Linked DNA regions of Homo sapiens. The protein of the gene in region 1 interacts with the protein of each later gene in a pairwise test. Each region holds a gene or a part of one and is shown on either strand. Other genes may lie near its edges.

Region 1 (4,507 bases):
CTCGGCCTCCCAAAGTGCTGGGATTACAGGCATGAGCCACTGCGCCCAGCCCAAAAGACTCTTTCTAAAAACAGTATCAGAATAACATGTTTTCCCTAAAAACCTCTCCACTGAGAAGAATGTATATGTTCAGAAAGAAACACTGGTAACATTTCAGAAATCAATGACAAGATAGGCCAGTGCCCAACAATGGAAAACACAGTGTGTGGGACTATCACAGTGCACAGTCCCCTAGAAACCAAAGAGGAAGAGAAGTACAGAATTTTAAAGCTTGAAAGAGGCCCAAAGACCATGTAATCCAGTTACTTGCAAACCCTTTCTAAGGGCAGATTCTTTTGTTCAAATGAAATCTTACCCGGAAGATTTATATAAAAGCTGAGATGCTCTTATTGAGTCAGGAAGGAACGGGGTGGTCTAGAGCCTAACCCACTCTACTCCACTCCCATCCTCTCACCCGCAAAAGTCCTTGTAAGGGCTCCAGGGAGCCCCTGGGGTTCCTCAAGTCACAGTTTGAAAAAAATCACTATTTCAATCCCACTTCCTCCTTTTGCCACTGGGGAAAAATGAAGCCCAGAGAAGTCCAGGTTACCCAGCCAAGATAGGGGTCTAGGCAGTCACCTATCTTCCTTCAACAATTTTTCCATGATGACACCCCGAATCCTCTCACGAACTGCCTTTTGTTTCTGCAGACTATATGCGTATTTGTATTTGTGTGTTTGTAACCATGCCCGGTGATCCCAAGAAAACATAACAAACCAGTCCTTGCTTTCGCTTTAAAGCTTGGAGTCTGCCATTTGAATACAACATCTCGGCTGCCCAAGATGGCTAGAAGCAGAATGCAAAAAGGCACAGGGTTATAAATACCTGTCTCATAGATGACCTGGGACACTGTGCTTTGCAGCCTAAATTAGGCAGAGTTTCTGTTGTCACGAAGAAGTACTAAAAAGCGGGCAGTTCTCAGCGAGACACCTGAGAGCTGGCATCCACATGAGGAGAGGCCCCATCACTTACATTACACTCATGAAGCCCAGAGATGTTAGCTACATTTTTCTAGGTAGCACAGCTAGGAAATGATGGACACTGAATTTGAATCTAAAGGCAACTAGCTGCAAAACCTGAGGTCTTAACACTGGGCCTATAATGCTCTTCCTTCTCACCACATGGGAAAAACGGAGAAAGACATGATCTTACAAAAGCACTGGGCTCAGCCAGCCTGGGAGAGAGGCAGCGCAGACCGGCACCAGGGTGGAATCTCTGTGTTTCCCCTCCAGCTTGCACAGAGGAAAATTCCTCACCAAACGCACGATCCCCGCACAGCTCCCAGGGACAAGAATTTTCTGCTTGTTTACTGAGTCCCCTGGGCTGGGAGTGGGGGGTTGCAGGGCAGGGGTGAGCTGCGCACAAAAGCAGGATAAAGGTAAACTTTCTGCATATGAGAACCATTTCCCCCCCTCCAAGGAGCCGTGTCACACTGTATGTCACCGTCATCAAAGGGGCTGTGCGTAAACCTGAAAAACCAAACGGACCTGTCTGTAGGTGTCACTTATATCACAAGGCTACAGGTGTCTTTATTTCCACTGCACGCTGGTGCTGGGAGCGCCTGCCTTCTCTTGCCTTGAAAGCCTCCTCTTTGGACCTAGCCACCGCTGCCCTCACGTAAGCGCCTTTTCTTTGCTTTTTTGGATGAATCGTAAGGGGTGTCAGGGCTCAGAGGCTCGGCCTGGGGCCTGGGTCTGCTCGTCCATCTCCAGCTCCAGGGCCGGCACCTGCGCTGGGTGCAGTCCCAGGGCCTCCGGGAGCTGTTTGACACGGATGTGACGGCTTGCCTCAGAGAGACCTGCTTGCCTCCGCAGGCCGTGTGGCCACCAGCCCTCCTCACAGCCACCACTCCCTCTGGATCCCTTAGCTGAACCAAGGGGAATTAAGAGAACGCGCCCAGGCGCTCAGTTCTCTATCCTCCCTAAAGCTTCTTTAGGAAGGGAAGCTGGATTTTACTCAGAAAAATATTCAGCTTCAAGGAAAGCCCCCCACCTACCCTTCTCCCCTGACTGAATTCCTTTCCCCACCGGCCTGCCCACTGTCCCCCACCCCCTCGATACAGAGAACTCCCTTATTATAGTTTGGGGCATTTTCAGGAATTTGTACAAAACAGTTTTAAAAGAAACCCATTTGCCCTCTGACATCTCCCCAGAAGAGAATGCTTCCAGAAAAGCAATGGTTAGCGTTTTTCCACTGTGTTCTCAGGCCTTGTCAGACTCTGCAGTGTGTGGGGTTTCTGTGGGGTTGCCCCCTGCTGACAGCGACAGGTAGCACAAGCTCCCTCCTCAGGCTGAAGCCGGGCCTGCGTGTGGATGCCTTTTGTACGCCCGAAAGTGTGTCAGACATCACTAGGTGCAATCGCTTCATGTTACAGATGAGGAAACTGAGGCCAGAAAGGCTAGATGACTTAGGGAGGCAGCTCTGTGGTTCAGTCTAGTCCAGAGACCCAGGGAAAGGGGTGGTTTGCCCATCCGAGTGAACGCTTGATTCTGTTGTCTTCGTGTTCTCTGCAATACTGTTTTTCATAATCTAAGGTATTCTCGGGCCGGAGTTTTCAGTTTGGTCATCTCCCTTTTTCAGAAGTCACCAGAGTGGCAAATTTTTAGATACATTGTTGATGGCTGATTTTTCCCTCTAAAACAGGATTGAATATATGTATTATGCCCCGTCCTTTGCATATATCGGATTGCATGATTTAAAAAAAAAAAAATCCCCATTTTAGAGATGAGGAAACCGTAGTTCGAAGAGGGGCATGAATATTTATATACCACATCTATATGAAAAAAAGCTTAAGAATTTCAGCAGTCTGGGTAGTAAGAAATGTGCCCCACGTTCGCAGCAGCAGAGGTAGGATTTAACCCCTGATATATGTAATCCAAAACTGGTAAGCTTTGCATCGAAGCCTACAGCAAACTACATGGCATACCTTTTTGGATCTTCGCTGCACCTTCAGAAAAACAGCTACAAACAAACAAACACGCAAACTCCCTAAGCGAGCTAAAGAAAAATGAGGAATCACTTGACAAGAGGTCAGCAAATTGGTTCTCACAGTTGCTAGGGTTCCTCTCAGAAGAACAAACCCTCAAGCACCCAACCCTCAATCTTTCTTTAGCAGTAAGTGTTGAAATACTCCACTGGGTTCTCCTCAGTGGGCCCCTTCTTAGGGAGGTCCAAGGGCTGGGAAATTGACCCTCCCTTGCTCACAAGTCTTGGGACGGAGTGGACATTTGGGTATCACTGAGGCTTTAAGGAAGGAAAACCGATTTTCTTCCCAATGATACCACTCAGAGGGTGGGGTTGAGGAAGCCCAATCTTGGCCACTTTTTTCTATATTTTGCACCCTATGGCCTAGTTCTGCCCAGTGATGATTTGGCCCGTAAACAGCCAATGTGTAGATGCTTAATTGGGCCAATTTTTGGTCACATGCCCAGAGTGAAGTTGATGATCACCACCAGAGTCAGGAAGGAATTTTCCTCCTCTGGCAAACTGGCCAAGGCTGAGTGGTTTGCTCCTTCCCCTCTCTCTGGGAGGCTGAGCAGGGGTGCCGGGTTGCTCAGGCCATGGGAGCCACACCTGTTATTGCTGCCTCTGATTTGTGTGACACTGAGAAGCCCACAGGCCTGTCCCTCCAACTCGGTGGACCCTCTCTGTGTGCATTTGGTGTGTGAGCCAGCTCTGAGAAGGGTTCAGAAGCCACTGGAGGCATCTGGGGACCTCAGCTTCCATGCCATCTCTGCCTCACTCCCACAGGTACCTGCAGCCAACTTTCTCATGTGTGAAGTGAGCCCACCTGATTCCACCACCTTGTGTTAATCATTCTTGAGCTTTTCCTACTTACTAGGCAGCTAGAATGATGACTACATTTGGGGGAAACTGATTCCAGCTTCCACGGATCTATCGGTGGGCAGTGAGTGAGGGTCCAGAGTGTTTAAGGTACCCAGCTAGGCTGGGCAAAGAATATCCAGTTGTCCTGAGGTATCTACCTCCAACTGGGGTAGAAGGCAGTGGGCACAGGAGAAAAGGGAGAAGAGGAAATCAGGGAGCTTTTTCAGCACTAAAAGTTCAGTCTGTGTGTAGTGGTTGGATTTTCCTCCAATTTGGTGGACTTGCTTGACCAAAAAAATGCAAATATAATCAATGTGTATGCATATGTGTGTGAGTGCCCAGGTTTGGATGTGTTGGCTCAATCAGGTGGGTGTCTGCAGAAAGTCACAGAGTTAGGGCAGACCTTGGGGGCTGTTTTATCTGTGTTCTTGTTTAGTAGTTGAAGAACTGAGATTTGGAGAGGGGCAAGAGGCAGAATCATAACTCCAGGCCCAGGGCTCCTTCCATGATGAGCCAGCTAGTCCCTCACAAAATGAAAAGTATGTCCAGAACAGCAGGCCAAGAGACCTCCCAGCAGATCCCTGTCTGTACTGGCGCTGACACTAGGTGGATCTATCACAGCGCTTCTCCACCTTTTTTTTAT
Region 2 (3,814 bases), on another chromosome or scaffold:
AAAGGTAGCATAAAATCATGCCTGTCAAATATATAGTAGATTAAAAAGGAGAAGGTAAACATTTGGGAGTGCATTTCTAACTTTTGAGGTGGGTTTAATGGAGGGGACTACTTATATATTCTCTTGATATTGCCATTAGCAACTGCCTCCCTCTTTATTGGAAATAAAATATTGGCCACGTTGGGAGAGCTCTTTTTTTTTTTTATGGTCTTATAAATTCAACAGGAACTTACTGAGAATGTCTGGGCCTGTCAGATATGTGCCAAGGAGTCTTTTAGGCACTTCAGGGGATAATCCAGTGGGAAAAGAGTGTGGCACTGGAAATGGGTCAAGTGTGTTTGGAGAAAGGCCAGTATGTGTGTGACCTGATGGAAGTGGTAGAAAATAAGGTGAGGTGGGTAGGGAGGGCTCTTTGGGAAATAAAATGTAAATTCTTGCATTAGTCAGTGTTCCTGGGAGTATTTTTGAATTGATGATGGTGTGAATTCCTCCTTTTTTTTTTCTTTTTTGCAATGGAAATCCTCTTCTTTTTAAAAGAGTACAACATTCAAGGGCTGTATATGAGTTTTATGAGGCTTATTGCATCAAGGAATTATATCCACTTAAAAAGGAGGTAGTTTTAGGCCGGGTGTGGTGGCTCACGCCTGTAATCCCAGCACTTTGGGAGGCCGAGGTGGGTGGATCACGAGGTCAGGAGATCGAGACCATCCTGACTAACACTGTGAAACCCCGTCTCTACTAAAAAAAAAATACAAAAAATTAGCTGGGCATGGTGGCATGTGCCTGTAATCCCAGCTACTTGGGAGGCTGAGGCGGGAGAATCGCTTGAACCCAGGAGGCAGAGGTTGCAGTGAGCTGAGATTGTGCCATTGCACTCCAGCCTGGGCGACAGAGTGAGACTCTGTCTCAAAAAAAATATGTAAATAAAAATAAATAAAAAAAGTTTTTTTGACCAGGTATGGTGGCTCATGGCTGTAATCCCAGCACTTTGAGAAGCCAAGGTGGTCAAATTGCTGTATCTCCAGAGTTTGAGACCAGCCTAGGCAACATAGTGAGATCCCTATCTCTATAAAAAGTAAAATTAGCTGGGTGTGGTTGCACATGCCTATAATCCCAGCCACTTGAGAGGCTGAGGTGAGATGATCACTTGAGCCCAGGAGGTTGAGGAAACAGGGGAAACAAAGCAGCTTCTTTGCTGTTCTTTTATTATGAGGTTTAACTGACATTGCCTTTTATTATAAGTTCCAGTGAATAATCAAAGTGATGCTTTGGCTAGCCATGTTTAATTTTTCTTAGATTTCTAGCTGTCTAGTATCAATAGGCATTTTTCCAGAACACACAGTATATGTTATTTGTAGTATATTCAAAACTATCTAAGTTGAAAAAAATAAAGAATTGTACAGAGCTTTAAGAACGTGTTCTGCTGGGTGTGGTGGCTCACGCCTGTAACCCCAGCAGTTTGAGAGGCCAAGGCAGACAGATCACTTGAGGCCAGGAGTTCGAGACCAGCTTGGGCAACATGGCGAAACTCTGTCTCTACAAAAAAATTACAAAAATTAGCCAGGCATGGTGGTGCATGCCTGTAGTCCCAGCTGCTCAGGAGGCTAAGGTGGGAGGTATGACTTGAACCCAGGAAATGAAGATTGCAGTGAGCCTAGATTGAGCCACTGTACTCCTCCAGCCTGGGTGACAGAGCCAGACCCTGTCTCAAAAAAAAAAAGGAAAAAAAAGTCCTGTTTTTCAGTCCTCAGTCTCAGGGTCTGTTTCTTCTCATCTCCTTGGACAGCACATAATAGTAGACTAAAAGTCTTAAAAGAGAACACTCGCTTTAATACTTATGCATTAGAAACAAACTGCAAAATAACTAAATAATAAATTCTGGCTTCTAGTTGGTTACGTTTCTGTTTTGGCTTCCCTACTGTATTTGGAACTCGCTGGCTTTGGTTTTCCTGATTTGACTTTTTATTTAAATCCCCCTGGCTTTTATGCAGGTTTATTGACTGGTGTAGTGGTAGACTCTGGAGATGGTGTGACTCACATTTGCCCAGTATATGAAGGCTTTTCTCTCCCTCATCTTACCAGGAGACTGGATATTGCTGGGAGGGATATAACTAGATATCTTATCAAGGTAAGTGAAAGGAAAATATCATGGAAATTAAATTTTGTAATTTGTTTACCACCTTAACACAGAATTGAATCTATCGTTTTAGGATTCCAGCAAATCTGTACCACTAGAGAAATTATCCAATTACCTCCCTTATTTATATAAAAATTCATATAAGATTTATACACATGAAGAAAAAAGAAGATACATTAAAAACAAGGAAAAAAGTGTACACACATGATCTCTGTATACTAATGAGAGTACATTATATCATTACATAATTATATTTGTTATTCCTGAGGAGTGAGTAGACAGATATTTCAAGGATAGAAGAGACCCCTAATTTGAAACTTTCTTGGACAGCTCAGGCAGCCTTTTCTGCCATAAAACCTTTCTTTGAGCAGGTATGTTTTAAGCCATGATCTTGGTTGGGTTGTCTGCTCTTGTCCTTTCCTACAAAATACAGTGATAGCAAATTAATGATATTTGAGGAAAACAGCCCAAATACGCCAGACTTTAATATTTAGTAGTTTTCATGGAATAGATGCAGTTTTTAATATTTACTATTTTAGTTTATTTCTGAATATAACTAGTTATAATTTTCTTTAAAACATTACTGGAGAAAGTACATAAGGTGTCTACTTGCTAACATATATCATTTTTAATATTAAAATAAAATTTAGAAAATTGTTTATACCACAATTCTATAATCAGTCTATCCTCTCCAGGACAGTGGTTCTCACCAGGGGACAGTGCTGTCCTCTGGGGGATATTAGCAATTTCTGGACACATTTTTGGTTGTCTGAGCTGGGCAGGAATGCTACTGAACATTCTATAATGAATAGGGCTGGCTGCACAACAAACAATGTATAGTCTGTCAGTGGTGCTGCTATTAAGAAACCCTGTCTCTGCATTAAATTGGGTTGCACTGTCTTTACCTTGACATTGGGTTCCTTCAGTCTCATTTAAAGTAATCCTCCTCATGAGGGGAGATTAAATTAATGAGAATTATAATACTCTCATTTTAGGCCAAAATTCAAAGCGTAACTAACAGAATTTCTGGGGTTGTCTTTAGAACACAGACTCAAATATTAGAGGATTTTTTTTTTATTTGTAAAGTCTAGTAATTTTTTTTCTCTCAGTGGGTTTTTAAAAAAATAGTAGTATTTTCTAGCATTTAAGAAATGTAACAATGGAGATTATACCTTTGAGTATCCCAATAATTCCCTTATCATTCGTTAAACAAATGCTATTGTCCTTCTAATATGTGCCAGACACAGTACTAGAAGCTAAAGATAAAACTTTTAAAGACTTGGGGGCATTTCATAAATATGGCATTAATTGTGTGAGCAAACTGCAGGCTACAGGAGTCCAGTACTAAAATAATATTTATTCATTAATATACTTTTGATTGTTTATCAAAACTATCAAAACATTAGTACTCATGCAGTGCTTTTCAAAAACTGACTTTTCTAGTCATTTTACTGACTTACTTATGAATTGTTAATTCTTTTACCCTCTCTGAAACTGAAATATAAATCCTTTTATGGCGGATAAAATCCTGCTTCTGAAATAGTAGGAGCTGAGGATCCACTGCCCATTCTGTTTGTTATTGATGTGACATATTTAATGAGCATTACTAGCTTTTGCAGAGTAGAACTCATTCAGATGTATTATGAACTTATTGCTATTGTTTTGTACCAGCTACTT

What was found.
Region 2: the proteins of ELF5 (region 1) and ACTR2 interact in a two-hybrid assay, tested with the Homo sapiens proteins (one large-scale study listed by BioGRID and IntAct).

What each region holds. Positions count from the first base shown.
Region 1 is NC_000011.10:34,510,826-34,515,332, reverse strand, and holds the start of ELF5 (ETS-related transcription factor Elf-5), read left to right. Parts: upstream 1-1,538; 5' UTR 1,539-1,656; intron 1,657-3,608; exon of another isoform or gene 3,609-3,763; coding exon of another isoform or gene 3,764-3,789; intron 3,790-4,507. UniProt on the Homo sapiens protein: Transcriptionally activator that may play a role in regulating the later stages of keratinocytes terminal differentiation. Isoform 2 binds to DNA sequences containing the consensus nucleotide core sequence GGA[AT].
Region 2 is NC_000002.12:65,251,737-65,255,550, forward strand, and holds part of ACTR2 (actin-related protein 2), read left to right. Parts: intron 1-1,991; coding exon 1,992-2,128; intron 2,129-3,808; coding exon 3,809-3,814. UniProt on the Homo sapiens protein: ATP-binding component of the Arp2/3 complex, a multiprotein complex that mediates actin polymerization upon stimulation by nucleation-promoting factor (NPF).